Homo sapiens: one gene and its partners. The protein of the gene in region 3 interacts with the protein of the main gene of each other region in a biochemical or structural test. Each region holds a gene or a part of one and is shown on either strand. Other genes may lie near its edges.

The links.
Region 1: the proteins of RUFY1 (region 3) and AP3S1 form a complex in vitro, tested with the Homo sapiens proteins (one study listed by BioGRID).
Region 2: of the proteins of RUFY1 (region 3) and BMX, one has a biochemical effect on the other in vitro, tested with the Homo sapiens proteins (one study listed by BioGRID).
Region 4: the proteins of RUFY1 (region 3) and AP3B2 form a complex in vitro, tested with the Homo sapiens proteins (one study listed by BioGRID).

Annotation. Positions count from the first base shown.
Region 1 is NC_000005.10:115,910,303-115,915,438, forward strand, and holds the end of AP3S1 (AP-3 complex subunit sigma-1), read left to right. Parts: intron 1-1,786; coding exon of another isoform or gene 1,787-1,834; exon of another isoform or gene 1,835-3,053; intron 3,054-3,059; coding exon 3,060-3,188; 3' UTR 3,189-3,779; downstream 3,780-5,136. UniProt on the Homo sapiens protein: Part of the AP-3 complex, an adaptor-related complex which is not clathrin-associated. The complex is associated with the Golgi region as well as more peripheral structures.
Region 2 is NC_000023.11:15,535,307-15,538,806, forward strand, and holds part of BMX (cytoplasmic tyrosine-protein kinase BMX), read left to right. Parts: intron 1-1,046; coding exon 1,047-1,121; intron 1,122-1,827; coding exon 1,828-1,999; intron 2,000-3,500. UniProt on the Homo sapiens protein: Non-receptor tyrosine kinase that plays central but diverse modulatory roles in various signaling processes involved in the regulation of actin reorganization, cell migration, cell proliferation and survival, cell adhesion, and apoptosis.
Region 3 is NC_000005.10:179,602,503-179,607,169, reverse strand, and holds part of RUFY1 (RUN and FYVE domain-containing protein 1), read right to left. Parts: exon of another isoform or gene 4,398-4,667; intron 3,564-4,397; exon of another isoform or gene 3,429-3,563; intron 1,295-3,428; coding exon 1,246-1,294; intron 1-1,245. UniProt on the Homo sapiens protein: Activating adapter involved in cargo sorting from early/recycling endosomes. Regulates retrieval of proteins from endosomes to the trans-Golgi network through interaction with the dynein-dynactin complex.
Region 4 is NC_000015.10:82,670,972-82,676,283, reverse strand, and holds part of AP3B2 (AP-3 complex subunit beta-2), read left to right. Parts: intron 1-5,312.

The DNA of each region.
Region 1 (5,136 bases), about 64 Mb from region 3:
CCTTTCTCTATCACAATATTGTACTGCACACACTTATTTTCAGACCACAGTTAACCACGGGTAAATGAAACCATGGAAAGTGAAATTGCGGGTAAGGGGGGACTACTGTACTGCTAACAAGTCAGGTAAACAATTTCTGTAAGTTTTAGCGTTGAAAAGTTAAGTGTTAGTAAAAGTTATTTTGTTGCTTTGAATGTATCTTACTGGAAAAAAAAAAAATCTTAACCAAGATGAAAATTACTTCATACCTCTGTGTCAGCAAACTGATTGCCTAATGGAAAGTTACTTTACATTTTATGTTTTAATAAAAATGTTTCAGGCATCACTTTCATGAATGTCTGAAAATGAAATTTGTTTTATAGCCATTCTGGTGTTGACTGAGTGACATAAAGTCTTTTTTTTTAGCCCTAAATTTTTATATATAAACATTGCTAGCTGGTTTAAACATCTGTTGATCAATTGTCCTTATCATATTTTCTCAACATTTTATATTTTGCATAATATGATTTCTTTTTAAAACGTTAGTTTAATTAAAACTTAAAGCACCTATTACAACTTTAAATTTTCCTACCATTTAAATTCATGGCATACTACACAAAAGTATTGAACATGCTTGAGAAATAATTTGATCCTCCTAATTCATTTGCGTGTTCTGAATAGTTCCTATCTTTTGCATGTCTATGGCTTGCTGCTTATGTTTAGAAGAATTGTAGTTTGTTGTACTTAGAAACTTCTTTTGGTTTTACATATTAAGCACAAATATGCTATTTAAATCAATTGCTATATTGACTTTATGTATTCTTGTTAGCAGCCAACAGTCGACACCATCTTTGGTCACAATGATACAACTCAATCTAATGAAATTTAACAGGATGCATTTTTAAATTTTTTTAATTTATTTTTTGCTTTAGTTTAGCTCTTCATGGTACAGGATATTATGGAAAAGAGAGCTTCATGTACATTTAATACTGAAAACATTATGTTTACTATTTATAAGTGTAAACCATAGTGTCCAATAAAATACACAGATAAACACACACACACACACGCACAATTTCTCTCACAATAATAAAATCCCTTAATAATTCACACCTTTAAAATATTTATACTCAAATATTTTGTCAATACTTTTCTATAGTCAGTTCATTATTTGTCTTCTTTATGGAAATTCCTAAGTAAAAATAGTGGCAAATTGGTCTTTTAACTAGAAAAATTACAAAATCCTCCTATCTAAAAAATGATACTACCTCCAGGACGTCTGCAATTTTGTAAATTTTTCTTCCTTAGTAGACAACATACTTCCTGGTAAAAGAAAGCCAAAAGATGGTAAACCTCTTTGAATTGGATTCTTCTTTGATCCCAACCCACTCTAAATTTTGGTAGCTAGACCTTTAACTTGAAACGATCAAATTAAAGACCCTTTCAAATATTATACATGCTGCCTTAATTATTATTTAGTTGTATCTCCAACATCTTTGGGGGAGCAGGAAGGAAGGGGGGGTAACAAAAACTTCATTGCTTCAGGTAGGTATAAGTATAGAGGTCAATCACATTTTTAGTTGTACATCAAAAATAACTAACATCCATTAAATTATAAAACTTCTCCAGCCCTATTCACTATTTAATTGGGTATGGAGTTATTCATTTGTATCACTCTTATCATTGCCTGTGTAGAATATACTTATTATTAATACTATTCTACTAATTTTTCTATTATTTCCAATTCTGAATTGATAATCCATGGCTTTTATTTCATTGCTTAACAATGTTTGTATCCTTTATTTAGCAAATAGTTTACACTGGCCTATTTTGTATCAGTCAAGATTTTTCTCAGGTAACAGCTTTATTATTATTTTTATTTTAATTAACAAAGGTAGGATTACATAAGAAAAGAAAACTAAAATTATGAAAAGGGACCTTAAAGCTAGTGTTTCTAATTTTATGGACATTGCCATATATAATCTAATCAAAGTGGAAGATTCGTTTTTGTTGTCTATTTTTGTACAAAATGATGCCACTGAACTCAGATGTCTTTGTTGACTTTGCTTTATTATATAGCCTGAATAAAAAGTAATGAAATGTAATTGGTATATAAATTAAACCTCAAATATGAAGGCTGTTAACGTAGGTGAGAAAAATGATATGTATGCATTTTCTTTTATTTGTAAGCATATTTTCTTTTAAAATTATTTCACAAATTACAAATGTTCCTACTAATAGGAAAGCCAAATATTATGCACTAGTGGTACTTACTGGAAATTTTAGAATTCATTTATTTATATTTACTACCTCTTGCATTTATGCTTTTCTTTCTCTAAATTTGTAAACTGTAAGCTGAATATATGTTGCTGAATCTATGCTATATGACAAAACATTTTTAATCGTTATATTTTTACTAATGCATCAAAGGGTTGGAATGATCCTCTTCGTGTAGTTTCATCTTTAGGCAGAACTATATTCTTTGGATTGAGGCTTTACTTGAAAGCCTATTTTTTTAATGTTCTAGAACTTTATTAGAAAAGTTTAAAAGAGCCCTCACAATTTAAAAAACTAATTTTATTGTTTTAAAATGTTTTAAGGGTTTATCCCTAAGAAATTAAACAAGCACAATCTATTACTTGCAATTTTTATTTCACAGCACATATTGCTAATAAATGCCATTTTAAAAGCAAAAGAAAATCTATCACAATCGTTGCAAGAGATATTTAATAAGGAAACTAATGTAAATCATGCTTCATGCTATCTGTCAGTTAAATCAAGATATAGGTGAAGATTTAGGTTTTATCATGTGAATATTGTGTGGTAGTGCACATTAATTTGTATTTAAATCTTTACATTGTTATCATTGCATGTGTTCACTGTATTTTTTAATGTGTCACTGTTTTCTCTTTATAGATTAGTATTTCAAAGTAACCATTCCATACCAATTCAAACTACCATCTGGTCCCTAAGCTTGTTATATGAAAATCTTTTATCATTGTCTTCCATTGTAAGTGTTTTATGATGAGCTACACCTGAGTTGTACATTTTCTTTTTCTTTTATTTGCTTCTGTATACAGGCTGGCTTAGCAGGAGCTCCAGCCCGTGCTGTATCAGCTGTAAAGAATATGAATCTTCCTGAGATCCCAAGAAATATTAACATTGGTGACATCAGTATAAAAGTGCCAAACCTGCCCTCTTTTAAATAAAAATGTAAAAAGGCCACTCCCAGGTAAAATCCAGGGGGAAGAGTCATCTAAGTTTACCATGCAGTTGTTTACCAAAAATAGAGGAGGAGAGTCTTAACTTTTGCTCTTGGATTTAAGTCAAGGTACTGTATAGAAGTTGTGTAAAATCAGTATGAAAGTTCAATGTTGCTGTTCTTGCTCAGTGATTTTAAAGAAATTGAGTAGTTCCTATGTGATTTTTTTTTTTCTTTTCTAAACTGCATTCCTGTGCCCACCTACGGCATGCCTCTATGTATTGGCTACTACAGTGTTTTAAAAAGTGTTTCAGATATTTCTCTAATTATGTACAACCTAAAATGTTGGTGTTTTGTATGGATCACAAGTGCAGCATTCCTTAATTCCTTCTGCTATATGTCACACAGTTGTTATTTGGAGAACCAAGTATGTATTGCATGAAAACATTATGACTTTTTTCTCTTAGTTTAAATAAACTCCAAGGTAACTGGACTTCTAAAGCACCTTTCTGTTTGCCTGATATCTACTTTAGCAATAATTTTTTTTACAACCCTCTGACTCAACAAAGTAAATAAAAGTATATTTTATCACTATTAAGCAGATGTTAATGTCGATTTATTTTTTACTCATATTTTTAATATTCAGAAACTCAGTAAATTATTCGGAAACTCAATTATTTCACAAATCAAGAGCAGTGTATCTTAGGCATATTGCGCAAGATGAGATCTGGAGTGGGGGGGCGACAGTCTTTCTAAAATGTATATTGAGAAAATGTAAAATCTTTTTTATACAAATAGCTTTAAGCCTTGCCTCTTGTTCCTTCTTGCCCAGATGGTAAAAAATAATTTCAGCCAATACCTAATTGATTTTGAATACAAAAACCCTTGGGACTCTACTTGTCTGTTTCATCCTAAAACAAAGTTAAACTAATGTTTTCTTAAGTCCTAACACTCACATATTCTAGTTTCTTATAATTGGCCCACATTTTATTTGGTCTTCCATGAACTGTGAGTGAGGTTACTTTTCCAGTTAGACTAAGGTTTTCCTTACAGTTCTAGTTCTCCTTCCTCAAATATTCTCTTTGAAATACTTCCATAGACTTGCAGCATGTATGAATTTTACTCCAAGAACCCTAAGATATAAGAAAAGTTACTTTATTTTTTTCTAAATAAAATTAATCTGTCTCTAAGCTCTCCAGCATGTTAGGGTAACAGGAAATTTAATCTGATTATTGGGATTTCCATCAGCTCAGAGATAAGAAAAAGTCCTAGAGAAAGGTTATGCAGAGTAGAGCATTTCAGGAGGTCCCTGGTCTTTAGTCATTTGACAGTGTTTATTAAGTGTTTACTGTGCGCTCCCAAGTCCCTGTCTTTTTTTTTTTTTTTTTTTTTTTTTTTTCCCAGAAGGAGTCTCGCTCTGTCGCCCAGGCTGGAGTGCAGTGCGCGATCTCGGCTCACTGCAACTGTGCCTCCCGGGTTCACACCATTCTCCTGCCTCAGCCTCCCGAGTAGCTGGGACTACAGGCGCCCGCCACCACGCCTGGCTAATTTTTAGTAGAGACGGGGTTTCACCGTGTTAGCCAGGATGGTCTGGATCTCCTGACCTCGTGATCCGCCTGCCTCAGCCTCCCAAAGTGCTGGGATTACAGGCGTGAGCCACCGCACCCGGCCGTCCCTGTCTTTATGGAGCGATATCAGTAACACAGAGTGCCTAGCAGTACCCCCTCCCCTCACCACCACCCCACCCTTTTCCTTTTCTCGTTGTTTTTGGGGAAACAAATTATGGGAAGGTTAAATGTTGGTTTGGTTAGGATATGCCAAAATTAGGGAAACCTCTGGGCCAGAGCATACTTTAACTTCAAGAAACAGTCAAAAGTGTTTTATCTCCCATTATATTCTATCAAATACAATGCCCCAACAACCAACCATCCTTCCTCCCCTTCCATTCTCTCATC
Region 2 (3,500 bases), on a different chromosome or scaffold from region 3:
GCCATAAGCTCAGCACTTAATTTGTGTTACTTTATATGACTTGATTGCATGCATGTAGGTGAATTGACCTCACTTCTGGCTTTCATTTTGGCTCTTACTGATGTTTTTCCTTTGCCCCAATTTCCTCAATTGTTTATTTTAACCTGTAGTACCTCAGAAGTACCTTTTGTAAAAGGTATTGCACAAAGAGATGCACAGGAAACTTCACAGGATATCAGAAGGAAATATTAAGATGTTTATTTATATTTGGATTTTTATCTCATTCTCTTACATTTTCTGTTTGTGAGTTTATTTTTATAATTCACACCAAATATATATTTTATAGAAATGTACTAATTTTTACATTTTAATTAATTAATTTAGTTGATTAAAGGTAAAGGATTTTAAAAGTTTGGAGACCACTCATATAAAAACCAGACAAATATATAGAAAAAGGAAGGAGGGGAAAAGTACATGTGTGATAGATAGGTCCCTTGACTTGGAGAGCATTCCACATTTAAAGCAAAAAACATATATACATATATTTTAATGGGTTCTTTCAAGCCACTATTAAATTTTATAATTACTTTAACCCAGTTTTACCATAACTAAATATAAACAATTAAAATGGCTTGACCACTTAATGAAACTTAGTAATAGGTTCAGTTTTTAAAAATTCAGATGGCTTATTATTTTTACCCTTCTGTATTGTTTGAATTTTTTGTCAAATGTATGTGCTGTGTGTATACATATTTTAAGCATAAGATTGTAAAGAGATAGCAAAAAAGAAGGGGGAGAATTTTAAAAGATTACATCATGCAATTAATTTCTATGGGATTTTTAAAAATCACATACAGTGTTTTATTCATTTAATTTTCGCTTTGCATTAAGCTAATTAGTCAAGTTAAGCACAACTACAACTGAATGGATTCTCTCTCTGCATTACAACATTCTGAACTCTTTGCTTTTTCAGCCACTTTGGAGAGAGACTAGTTGTGAACCAATGTTACATAATGTGATGGGATATGATATAATGATGTGATGATATGATGCTGATTCCATTGCAGGCATGATCACACGGCTCCGCCACCCTGTGTCAACAAAGGCCAACAAGGTCCCCGACTCTGTGTCCCTGGGAAATGGTATGGATACATACTTGGGTTCTTAAACTCCATTTTCCATCATTTTTTATTTAAATATATGGTTAATTTACTGGCAAAAAAAAAAAAAAAGGAGGAAAGACAGGAAGGAGGCCTCTGTTCAGATTGTATCAGGAAGGATTTTCTTTAAAAAAAAAAAAAATCTGTCCTCTCAACCTAAATCTGTAAGCTTCTAGAATCACCAAGAAGATCATCAATTTGTTTTCTTATCAGACCCCATTATTAGCCTCCAGCACACCATTGTCTGTCCTATCTTTTTCCTGGATTTTGTGCCCACTGAGCAGAGCCAGTATTCAACCTTGTGTGTTAGGACGATCACATCCACTGCGATCACAGTTTAATTTTTTTATTAAAAAAATCTGACAATGTTTTACCAATCTAAGGACATCGAGTACATTTTGATGCTAAGCCTCTCCAAGATGCCTCTGATTGGCAAATTGTTTTTACTCTGAGCCTTCTTGTTAAATAACTGTAGCTACTTCAAGAATAGTGTTACCCTGGTGCCATTATCACGTAGCCACAAGACCACATCACTAAGGGTTTTTTTTTTTAACTTATCAACTTAAAATAAAAAGTCTTGTTTATATTGTCACTGTGAAACTCCCATTGGAGAAGAAATCACTTGGGAAGCTGTTAGCCCCAAAGCTTTCTATGCTCGTCCTAAAGAATGTCCGTCTTGCCTTGTTAGGAATCTGGGAACTGAAAAGAGAAGAGATTACCTTGTTGAAGGAGCTGGGAAGTGGCCAGTTTGGAGTGGTCCAGCTGGGCAAGTGGAAGGGGCAGTATGATGTTGCTGTTAAGATGATCAAGGAGGGCTCCATGTCAGAAGATGAATTCTTTCAGGAGGCCCAGACTATGATGTAAGTTTTTCCCAAGGAATGGCTGTTTAGCCCTCATCATGGGAGGGCATTAGCACTAATAGGCCTGCTGTTAACTTTGCAAGGCCTAGAGCAAAAGTCCACATACTGTATCATAGACATAAATATTTAGAAGTTATAAATTGAACTAACAGACTATTAAATCAAATCAGTCTTATGCTCCTACTTTGACAAATATACCTTCATAACAACCTGAAAGGCCATATTCAAATTGAGAATTCCCAAGACTCTACAAAGAAACCAGCCTCTGGCCTGTGGTCTTCCAAACTCCACCCCTCCTGCTTCTCCCCTCATACCCAACTCCGTCCTGCACTATAAGGGGCCTCAGTAGTTATGTACAGACACAGCATTCAGTACACACAAGCTCCCTCTTTGTCTCCCGCAAACAATTATCTAGTGGCTAATGATCTTGGCTAGGGGTAGTGTGCTTTACCCTTAAGCGGACAGACTCCTTAAGGAAGAGTCAGCACAGGTCCTGAAAGAGGCCTCAGGACTATATGGTTGGGTGATTTCAGAGTCCTGGTGCTCTAAGGGTGGCAGAGAAAGGGACATATAGGGTCGGAGTAGGCATGTCTCCTTGGCCCTGTGGCCTCCTTGCCCTGTGGGGAGGTGCATGGTGGGATGAAGAACAGAGTGGGGCTACCACCCAGAACTAATGCAGTACTGAAAATTAATGCTCTACCAACAATATCCTTTTCCTTCTTGGTACCTTCAATACAGTCTAATACTCTTCCTAATGTGTCTCAGCTCCCAGCACAACAGCCTTCAATTATTGGCAATACATATGTGTTCTCTTTCCCTCTGTGTCTTCTCTCTCTCTCTCTCTTCCCCCTCTCTCTCTTTCTCTCTCCCTCTCTCTCCCTCTTCCTCTCTCTCCTTCTCTCTCTCTCTCCCTCTCTCTCCCTCTCTCAGTTGTATATAATTCTCCCTCTTCTTGTCAACATAGTAAATCAGACTTTGTAGAGTGACCACCATTCAGGTTTGCTGAGGTCTGGGAGGTTTTAGCACTGAAAGTCCTGTGTCCTAGGAAACCTCCCAGCCCCAGGCAAACCAGGACAGTTGGTCACTCTACTTTTAGAGAATCAATCAGTATGGTATGAAAAATGATGTTATAGTAGGTCTCTGGTCAAAAATAGTTGAAATAAAAAAATTCCTAGCCTGCTAGAGATTGAGAGCACTTTTTAAATTTTTACTTAAACAGTTATACTGTACAGTGTTTACAGGCATTTCTCTAAGCACTTTACAAATATTAACTCACTTAATCCCCATAAGAAACCTATGAGGGTTGTACCATCGTTATCTTAGATTTACAGGAAACCGAAGCACAGAAATGTTGAATAACTTGTCCAGAGTCGGCAAGCTAGTAAAAGTCGAAAAGCAGAGATACAAACCCAGGCAGACATTCTAGGGTCCATTTCTTTAGTTATTCTTTTATGAAGACCAAAGGAATTAGGAAAGTCAGAACAATCACTTTTACCATAAT
Region 3 (4,667 bases):
TGAGTGAGACTAAGACACTTGTTGACGCTGATCCTTGTGGAGAGACAGAAGGTGATGGACAGCGGGCACTGCGTCCCACAGGCCTGAGGAAGCCCTTCTCCATGCGGGCCAAAGCCCTGATTCTTGACCAGCCCTGGGGAGCACATGGACTCCATTCCACAGGGGAGGCGGCTGAGGCTTTGAAAGGTGGCCCCTCAGAGGGCTTTCTCAGGGCGAAGCAGCACCTGTGATTTATTTGGGCTTAGGGACTGGGGTGTTCCAGAGAAGTCAAAGGCATGAGGTACTTTTCTGGCCTGTTAACATCTGCTGGACAAGATTTTCTTGCTGACAAATAGATCCTCACAGACTGAGCTAGAGCCATATACCCTTGGGGCTGCCAGTGTGTGCCCAGGACATTCATCCTGACATCAAAGAGCTCTGGCGGCTCTAGAGTCCTGTTTTATGATTTCTATCCTCTGATGCTGTGAAACTGATATTACCTAGAAGTCCCGGCTGCTGTTAGTTGCTGCCCCTGACCTGGCACTTGGAAGTTAGATGCCCAGAGACATCAGGGTCCCTGCTCTGCACCACGTGGAACAGTGTGCAAAGGGACTGCTTTTGCATTGCTGCCACGGCACAGCTGAGGCCGAAGCGGGGTGCTCCTGCAGGCAAGGCTGTCTTGAAGGCCAGGCTGCCGTGCCCCCGAATGTCTGCCTCCTCTCCCACACTCTCCGCCCTGCAGCTCAGCCTGGCACCCGCACCCACACCGGGCCACCTGCAAACTCCTGCTTTTCGGTGGAATGTGTCATTCTGCCCTCCCCACCAGGGTGCGGAAACCTGGCCCAACTCAGGGCTTGGCTTGAGTGGTCCCTAGCAATGGCACAGGGCACTGCAGTGGGGCTGGCTGGCCTCTGGCCCCTCACTTCAACAGAAGGGCCTGTTTTCCACTGTTTAAAGATATCCGCGGGTCCCTCCTCTCCGCCACCTGCTTCCCCCTTAGGGAATGCCCATCAGGCCTATTTTGAAAGCACAGCTGATGGTGGAGGAACTGGAGTCGGAAGACCTAGGCTCAGCTTCGGCCACCTGTCAGCATCGCCCTCAGCCGAGGGACACGTTTCTGAGCAGCGTTTGGCTTCTCTGTCAATACGTCATCACCACTGCCTCAACCACACGCTCTCACCTGACTGTTGGGATACTTAAACGTACGAGCACACGGGCAGTCAGCACAAGCTGACAGCAAAGAAGTGGTTCTTAGCAAGGCAGTACCTTCAGTGCCTGGTTCACTTCTTTTATATCTTCCATCTTCAGCTTGGACCTAAGGAAAAAAAAAAGGCCATTTCATAGCAGTGAGAGAGAGTGAGGCTCTGAATCCCTAACACAGCTGGCTCTCAGGACTAGCTTTGTGAGGATACCGGACTTGTGAGGAGACCCAGAACGTGAGTTGTTAAAATGCCTTCCGCCTCTGTACAATCCCAGAGTTGCCTCATCACACTGGCTCCCGTCTGCTGAGGGCTGAGGCTGAGCCTGGGACTGCATCTGGCACGAGAACACACTGCTTAGCCTGCAGGGGCTCAAAAAGACTTTGAGGGAGGCTGAGGCGAGAGGATGGCCTGAGGCCAGAAGTCCAAGACCTGGCCCTGTTCTGCACTAGTCTCTACCGCTCTCCCCAGCAGGAACCTGAGTCTGCAGGCTTCTCCCCGGCCTCCATTCTGCTGCCTGCTGTCTGGAAGGGGGAAGGCTCAGATGGCATAGCCATTTGTTCTTGCTCCATTCTTGTTCAGTGTCAGAACAATTCCTTTGTTTACACAAGAGACAGGACTGAACATGGTCTAAATTGGCAGAACTAAACCAAATAAAATGAAGCAGTTTGTGCAATTGAGGGAAACAGTCTGATCCTTTTTTTTTTTTTTTTGAGACAGGATCTTGCTATATTGCCCAGGCTGGAATGCAGTGGTGCAATCATGGCTCACTGCAACCTTGACCTCCTGGGCTCAAGTGATCCTCTCACTTTAGTCTCCCAAGTAGCTGCGACTACAGGTGCATGCCATCACGCCTGGCTAATTTTTGTATTTTTTCTAGAGGTGGGGTTTTGCCATGTTGCCCAGGCTGGTCTTGAACTCCTGACCTCAATTGACCCACCTGCCTCAGCCTCCCAAAGTGCTAGGATTATAGGCCTGAGCCTTTTTCTTTTTTTCTTTTTTTTTTTTGAGATGGAGTCTTGCTGCATTGGCCAGGCTGGAGTGCGGTGGTGTGATCTCGGCTCACTGCAACCTCTGCTTCCTGGGCTCAAGCAATTCTCCTGCCTCAGCTTCCCAAGTAGCTGGGATGACAGGCGCCCGACACCACACCCAGCTTATTTTCTTGTACTTTTACTAGAGATGGGGTTTCACCATATTGGCCTGGCTGGTCTTGAACTCCTGACCTCAAGTGATCCACCTGCCTCGGCCTCCCAAAGTGCTGGGATTAGAGGCCTGAGCCCCCACGCCCAGCCTGGCCTGGGTCTTTCTTAAAAGCTGAGATCAGTCTGAACTATCATCAGATTAGACTCATCTCAGTGACAAAATGGCAGGTCTCTGGGAAACACAGGCTAGACTTCGAAGGGAGGGATTAGAAAACAGCATCAGGGCATTTAGAAAAATCCCTGTGGCTTTTACTAAAGATCGGGAGGCAGCTCCTTCCCTTCCTGGTCCGGCTGCAGAAACAGGAAATAGGCCAGCAGATTGACAGGATGAGAAGAGGCTGCGCAGATGGACAGACCTTGGGAAGCCAGGTCAACAAGGCAAACTGAACATACAAGAACTCTGGGAAACACAATTTAGGAAGAATCCAGATGTTCCCAAGCCAATGAAACTGGAAACTGTTCCTGTAGCTAATGTAGGGCCTGCGAAGAGGCTTTGCCATCTCTGTCATCCGGTATAGGCTTGCAAGAGGAAGAAGGGAAGAGGGGAGAGAGCACAAAAGCAACTCCTCAGGTAGTCCTGTCTGGGTTTGCAAACACCTGATGCTGTGACACCCACAGCACTCACTGGGAGGGAATGGTGGCCAGGCAGCTCACACTGGGATTTGGAAGCTAGGTTAGCCGGTAGTGCCAGGCGGCCACAAAGTGCAACAATACATTTGTTTGTTTGTTTTTGAGACAGAGTTTCACTCTTATTGCCCAGGCTGGAGTGCAATGGCGCGATCTCGGCTCACCGCAACCTCCGCCTCCCAGGTTCAAGCGATTCTCCTGCCTCAGCCTCCTGAGTAGCTGGGATTACAGGCGCGCTCCACCATGCCCGGCTAATTTTATATTTTTAGTAGAGATGGGGTTTCTCCACGTTGGTCAGGCTGGTCTTGAACTCCTGACCTCAGGTGATCCACCCACCTCAGCCTCCCAAAGGGCTGGGATTACAGGCATGAGCCACCACACCCGGCCACAATGATACATTTTAAAGATCAGAGACCAACCACAGTTTCGAGGTCTATGGTCCACTAGGAGGGGACCTGTGACACTGCCTTGCTGTCCATCCAATGTAAAGAGGAAAACACTGGCTGCAAACCCCAGAAGCCAGCTCCACGCCAGCTCTGTTCCACGTCTGCTTCTGGTGAGTGCTCTCGGGATGCCCTCACAGCTGGCCTATGCTCTGAGCATGGGGACAGACACTGGGCCTTGCGTCCCTCAAGGAGCTCCCTGGGGGTTGGGAAGGAACGGGCCAGAGCACGGCAAGTTGACAGGCCAGACGGGAGCAGCACAGGGCACTCAGCTGAGTGGGTGGCAGGCAGGGCGGAGGGTGGGAGGGGAGGAAGCAGCGGCCATGGGCTAGTCTAGAAAGGTAAGAGGCACAGGAGAGACGGCGAGTGGCCAGCACCTGCATCTGGGAGTGGGCAGACCGCATTCCCACCAGAGACATCAGATTCCCTGACCAGCTATTTGTTTTTTTTTTTTGAGATGGATTCTCACTTTTGTTGCCCAGGCTGGAGTGCAGTGGTGCAATCTCGGCTTACTGCAACCTCTGCCTCCCGGGTTCAAGCGATGCTGCTGTCTCAGCCTCCCGAGTAGCTGGGATTACAGGTGCCCACCATGCCTGGCTAATTTTTGTATTTTTAGTAGAGACGGGGCTTCACTATGTTGGCCAGGCTGGTCTCGAACTCCTGACCTCAGGTGATCTGCTCACCTCAGTCTCCCAAAGTGCTGAGATTACAGGCGTGAGCCACCGCACCCGGCCTATTTTCTTAATAGTACTAGACTCTACAAATTTCTGGTGCAGACCAGGCTGTGCTGAGGTCGTGAGCCCCATCTCCTTGGTCATGGTGCTTATGTCAGGCATGGGTACTCGGGAGCAGGGTCAATCTCGGGTGATCCTGGCAGCTATGCACAAAGAAGAGGGAGTTTGTTCCTCTGATAGATGGCCTTGCTGAGTGCTGTTTTGCCCCTGCAGGGTCCAGACCCACCTGTGAGGCAGACAGGATAGCAGAGGTAGGAGACAGAGACCGATTCCTGATGGCTTCTTTTGCTTAAGCCACTTTGAGTTGGATTTCTGTTACTTGCAACCATGCGCCCTGACTCGAGGAGAAAAGCTACCCACTATGTTGAAAATGCAGAATCATCACACAAATGGGCAAGTTCCACAGTCCGCAGTGTGATCCACCCCAAGGCCCAGGCGTCCACAGCAACCTATCTAGACTGGGACACCAAGGAGGAGAGCTGT
Region 4 (5,312 bases), on a different chromosome or scaffold from region 3:
TGTAGTGCTGGTGGTCACTGTTGAAGAGACTCTCCTATGAAGCTGTGACCTCCAGTCTGCTAGTACAAGAGTCCTGTCTGCCACCTTGGAACTCTGGGGCTGTGAAGAACCACAGTTGATTGGGATAAGGGAAGGGCCCAACAGTGGCAGGTACTGATGGGAGAACATGCATCCCAGATGTGGTCTGTGCTTCTTTCCAAAGCTTGACAATGCTTGGCCAGTCTGTGCCAAAGATAAGGGGGTGAGTCTCTGCTTGGGCTTGGGTGGTGCTGGTGGCCACTGTCATTCCCAAGGTGAAAGGTTATAAGAGATACACAGCCAAGGATGAGGCTCAACTAAGTTGTAGTATCAGGGTGTTCAGAGCCTCCTAGCTGTCTGGCATCTCCTGAGATGGTTCCAGGAGATTCTCCTAAAATGAAGCATAATGTGCTGAGCTTTTCAAGGTGTCAGGGACATCAAACACCATGACGATTTCCACACTCTCCCACTCAGTTAAGCAGGACAGGGATTGGCAAACTACTGCCCATAGGCTGAATTTGGCCTATTCCTGTTTTTGTAATAAAGTTTTGTTGGAACACAGCCCTGCTCATTCATTTACAAATTACCTATGGCTGCTTTTGTGCTACAACAGCAGGGTTAACTAGTTGCAACAGACTGTATTGCCCACAAAGCCTAGAATAGTTATTCTCTGGCCCTTTTATAAAAAGACTCTGCCAATCCTTGAAGCAAAACCTCTGGCTAGGTGGCTGGGGTCTACAGATTTATAGCAGGGATATCCCCTGGAGACTGTAGCATCCCTGCCATGTCCACTGTGCGTGGGAGTCTTTGGATGGTGGCACTTATCTTTTTCAGTGGCTTCTTTGATCCATTGTGGCCAGAGTGAGCCCCAGAGGCTCAAGGTGAGGTAGGCAGGGCCACCAAGTGCTGTGACTGTAATCAGGAGTCAAAGGACAGCAGCAACATGTGGAGGCAACTGAGTCTGTATAATTAAATATGCTAGCCTTATCAAAAGTAACTTCCAAACCTTAGGTCTTCAGGTGGAAGGAGGAGAGACACTGGACCATGTGACCCTGAGCTTGTTATCAGTGTTGTGGGCAAAGCAGATTGGAGAGAGAGAAGTTAGAGGGGGAGAGAGAGAAGTTAGAGGGAGAAAGAGCACCATGGGGAAGCGTTCAATCGTTGAAAAAATATTTGTATACTTCCTTTGTTCAGGTGGGAGGAAGGAGCAAGTGGGAGGAATGTTTGAAAAGATGAAGCAGCCTGGGTGGGGAGCCACCCAGGTAGGTGGGAGTCTTGACATGCTCAGCAATGAGCCAGAGTCCTAAACCCCAGGATGGTGAGGTTGGCATGTTTTCATAAGCCTGGGCCTGTCCACATGTCATTTCCCCCAAGTTGTCACTGTGAGCTACATGTGCATTTGTTCATTTATTTAACATATATGTAGGTGGGAGTCTGACATGCTCAGCACTGAGCCAGAGTCCTAAACCCCAGGATGGTGAGGTTGGCATGTTTTCATAAGCCTGGGCCTGTCCACATGTCATTTCCCCCAAGTTGTTACTGTGAGCTACATGTGCATTTGTTCATTTATTTAACATGTAGGCCTACTATTTGCCTGGTACTGTGCTGCGTCCTGAGGATATGACAATGAGTGAGACACATTTACAGGTCTCCAGATACTCACAGCCAAGTAGGAGAAACAGGACAAAAATAAACATTTTAAACACAGCAGTAACAGCTGTCATCAGGGTTGGCACAGCGAGCTGTGGGTATATACAGCTGAACCCTCCCCTAGGAATGACCCCTGTCAGGGAACCCAGAGTAGGCTGTTCAGGCAAATGGACACTCACCTCCAGGGCGCCCTTCACCTGCAAGTGAGTTTTTGCAGGCCCCTTAGAATGGTTATTTGATTCAATAAAGATTTTTGTCCTCCCTTTCTTTCTCCTTTCTTCCCAGCCTCTTCTGGGAGTGGTAAAGAAGGGGGAGTCCTTGGGGTACTAGGAGGGAGGTGGTTTGGATGCGCACATGACCATGCTTGCAAAACAGTAGTGATGCTTCCCATCCTGGGACCATGAGTGGCAATCTGCCCAGCTAAAAGGCCACAGTAATCTCAGTCATTCTCTCCAATTTGGACATGGGCCCACGGCATGCCAGATCCTGGCCCAGGATGAGGCCAAGGAAATGACCAAGATGAGGCCTCTGCCCTGCTATTGATCAGCAGATAATCAGATACTAGACCAGAGGCCACAAAGGCATAACATGCAGGTGGCGGGGGATGGGGGGGTTGGTAATCAAAGTGGCTATTACATCCACCTGGATATAGACCCTGGGGAAACTGCCTAGCAGGTTAGTTTGCTTTTATGTGTCAGGTGAGATGTGTGGCAGGAGGGTCTGCCAGGGGCACAGTGGGATCTACAACCCTCCCATGTGACCGCCTTTACAGTGAATAGAAGATTCTGACAAATTTTGCAGAATTGCTTTTAAAAACGTAAACTTTTTTTAATATGCTAAAGGTAATACATGCTTATCATAGAACATTTGGAAAACTCAGAAAATTATAAGTTTAAACTATTAATAAGTCCACCATTTAGAAGACCACCATTAATTATATATTTCCTTATTTTTTATTCCTATATATAGTCATTCAGAAGTTGTACTTTTGTCTATTGTCCAATATTTTAAACTTTTCTGCTTCTTTTCAATGCTTTCATATTTAATACTTTTTTTTCCCCATTCACATTTCAATTAAACTTTTCACTTAGAATTTTCTCCAGGCTGGGTTCAGTGGCTCACACCTGTAATCCCAGCACTTTGGGAGCCCAAGGTGGGTGGGTCATTTGAGGTCATGAATTCAAGACCAGCCTGACCAACATGGCAAAACCCTGTCTCTACTAAAAGTACAAAAAAATTAGCTGGGTGTGGTGGTGCGCTGAAATCTCAGCTACTTGGGAGGCTGTGGCAGGAGAATTGCTTGAACCCAGGAGGTGGAGGTTACAGTGAGCTGAGATGGTACCACCACACTCCAGCCTGGGCCACAGAGCAAGATCCATCTCAAAAATAAATAAAAATTAAAAAGAATTTCCTCCAAATTTTTTTCTACTTTCACATTTTTAAATCAATTGTATTAGTTTTCTGCTACATAATAAATTACTATAAATTTGGTGGCTTCAAACAACACACGTTTATTTTCTCAGTGTCTATGGGTCGAGAATTCAGGTATGGCTTAGTTGGATCTTATGCAAGGCTACAACTGAGGTGTCAGCCAAGGCTGAGTTTTTATCTGGAGGCTGTACTGGGGAAAGGTCCACTTCCAAGTCACATGGTGCCACGATCCACTTCCTTGCAGTTGTAGGATTGTGGCCCTGGCTTCTTGCTGGCTGTCAGCTGGGGGCTGCCCTTGCCTTCTAGAGGCCGTCCTTAGCTCATTGCCATAGGGGCCTCCCAACACGGATGCTTAATTTCTCCAAAGCCACAAGGGAGAAAGTCTCTAGAGCCAGTCTGCTAGCAAGACCGTCTTCTTTTTATTTTTTAATTTTTATGGGTACATAGTAGGTGTATATATTTATGGGGTATGTGAGATATTTTGATACAGGCATATAATGCATAACAATCACATCAGGGAATGGGGTATCCATCCTCTCAAGCATTTATCTTTTGTGTTACAAACAATCAAATTACACTCTCTTAGTTATTTATAAATGTATAATAAATTATTGTTGACTGTAGTCACCCTGTTGTGCTGTCAAATACTAGATCTTACACATTCTATCTAACTATAATTTTGTACCCATTAACTATCCCCACTTCCCCCACCCACTACCCTTCTCAGCCTCTGGTAACCATTATTCTACTCTCCAACTCCATGAGCTCAATTCTTTTAATTTTTAGCCCTCACAAATAAGTGAGAACATGTGAAGTTTGTTTTTCTGTGCTTGGCTTATTTCACTTAAAATAATGACCTCTAGTTCTATCCATGTTGTTGCAAATGACAGGATCTCATTCTTTTTTATTCTTTTTTTATAGTACTGCATTGTGCATATGTACCGTATTTTCTTTATCTATTTGTCTGTTGATAGACACTTAAGTTGCTTTCAAATCTTGGCTATGGTGAACAGTGCTGCAATAAACGTAGGTGTGCAGATATAACTTCAATATGTTGATTTCCTTACTTTTGGGTATATACATAGCATTGGGATTGCTGGATCATATGGTAGCACTATTTTTAGTTTTTGTTTGTTTGTTTGAGATGGAGTCTTGCACTGTCACCCAGGCTGGAGTGCAATGGCATGATCTCAGCTCACTGCAACCTCCGCCTCCCAGGTTCAAACGATTCTCCTGCCTCAGCCTCCTGAGTAGCTGGGATTACAGGCGCCCGCCACCAAGTCTGGCTAATTTTCATATTTTTAGTAGAGATGGGGTTTCACCATGTTGGCCAGGCTGGTCTTGAACTCCTGGCCGCAAGTGATCTGCCCGACTCGGCCTCCCAAAGTGCTGGGATTACAGGCGTGAGCCACTGCACCTGGCCTATTTGTAGTGTTTTTTTTTGAGATGGTGTTTCACTCTTTTTTCCCAGGCTGGAGTGCAATGGCGTGATCTTGCCTCACTGCAACCTCTGCCTCCTGGGTGCAAGTGATTCTTCTTCTGCCTCAGCCTCCCAAGTAGCTGAGATTACAGGTGCCTGCCACCACGCCTAGCTAATTTTTTGTATTTTTAGTAGAGACAGGGTTTCACCATGTTGGCCAGGATGGTCTTGATCTCTTGACCTCGCGATCCACCCACCTCGGCCTCCCAAAGTGCTGGGATTACAGGTGTGAGCCACCGTGCCCGGCCTATGTTTAGTTTTTTAAGGAACCTCCAAACTGTTCTCCAGACATTTCCACTAACAGTGTACAAGGGTTGCCTTTTCTCCATGTTCTTGTCAGCATTTGTTATTGCCTATCTTTTGGATATAAGCCTACTTGGGGTGAGATGATATATCTTTTTTTGTTTTGTTTTGTTTTTTGAGACGGAGTCTTGCTCTGTCACCCAGGCTGGAGTGTGCAGTGGTGCGATCTTGGCTCACTGCAACCTCTGCCTCTGTGGTTCAAGTGATTCTCCTGCCTCAGCCTCCTGAGTAGCTGGGACTACAGGCGTGCGTCACCACGCCCCGTTAATTTCTGTACTTTTAGTAAAGATGGGGTTTCGCTGTGTTGGTCAGGCTGGTCTCAACTCCTGATCTCAGGTGATCCGCCTGCCTCAGCCTCCCAAAGTACTGGGATTACAGGCATGAGCCACCCGTGCCTGGCCTTTCATTGTAGTTTTGATTTGCATTTCTC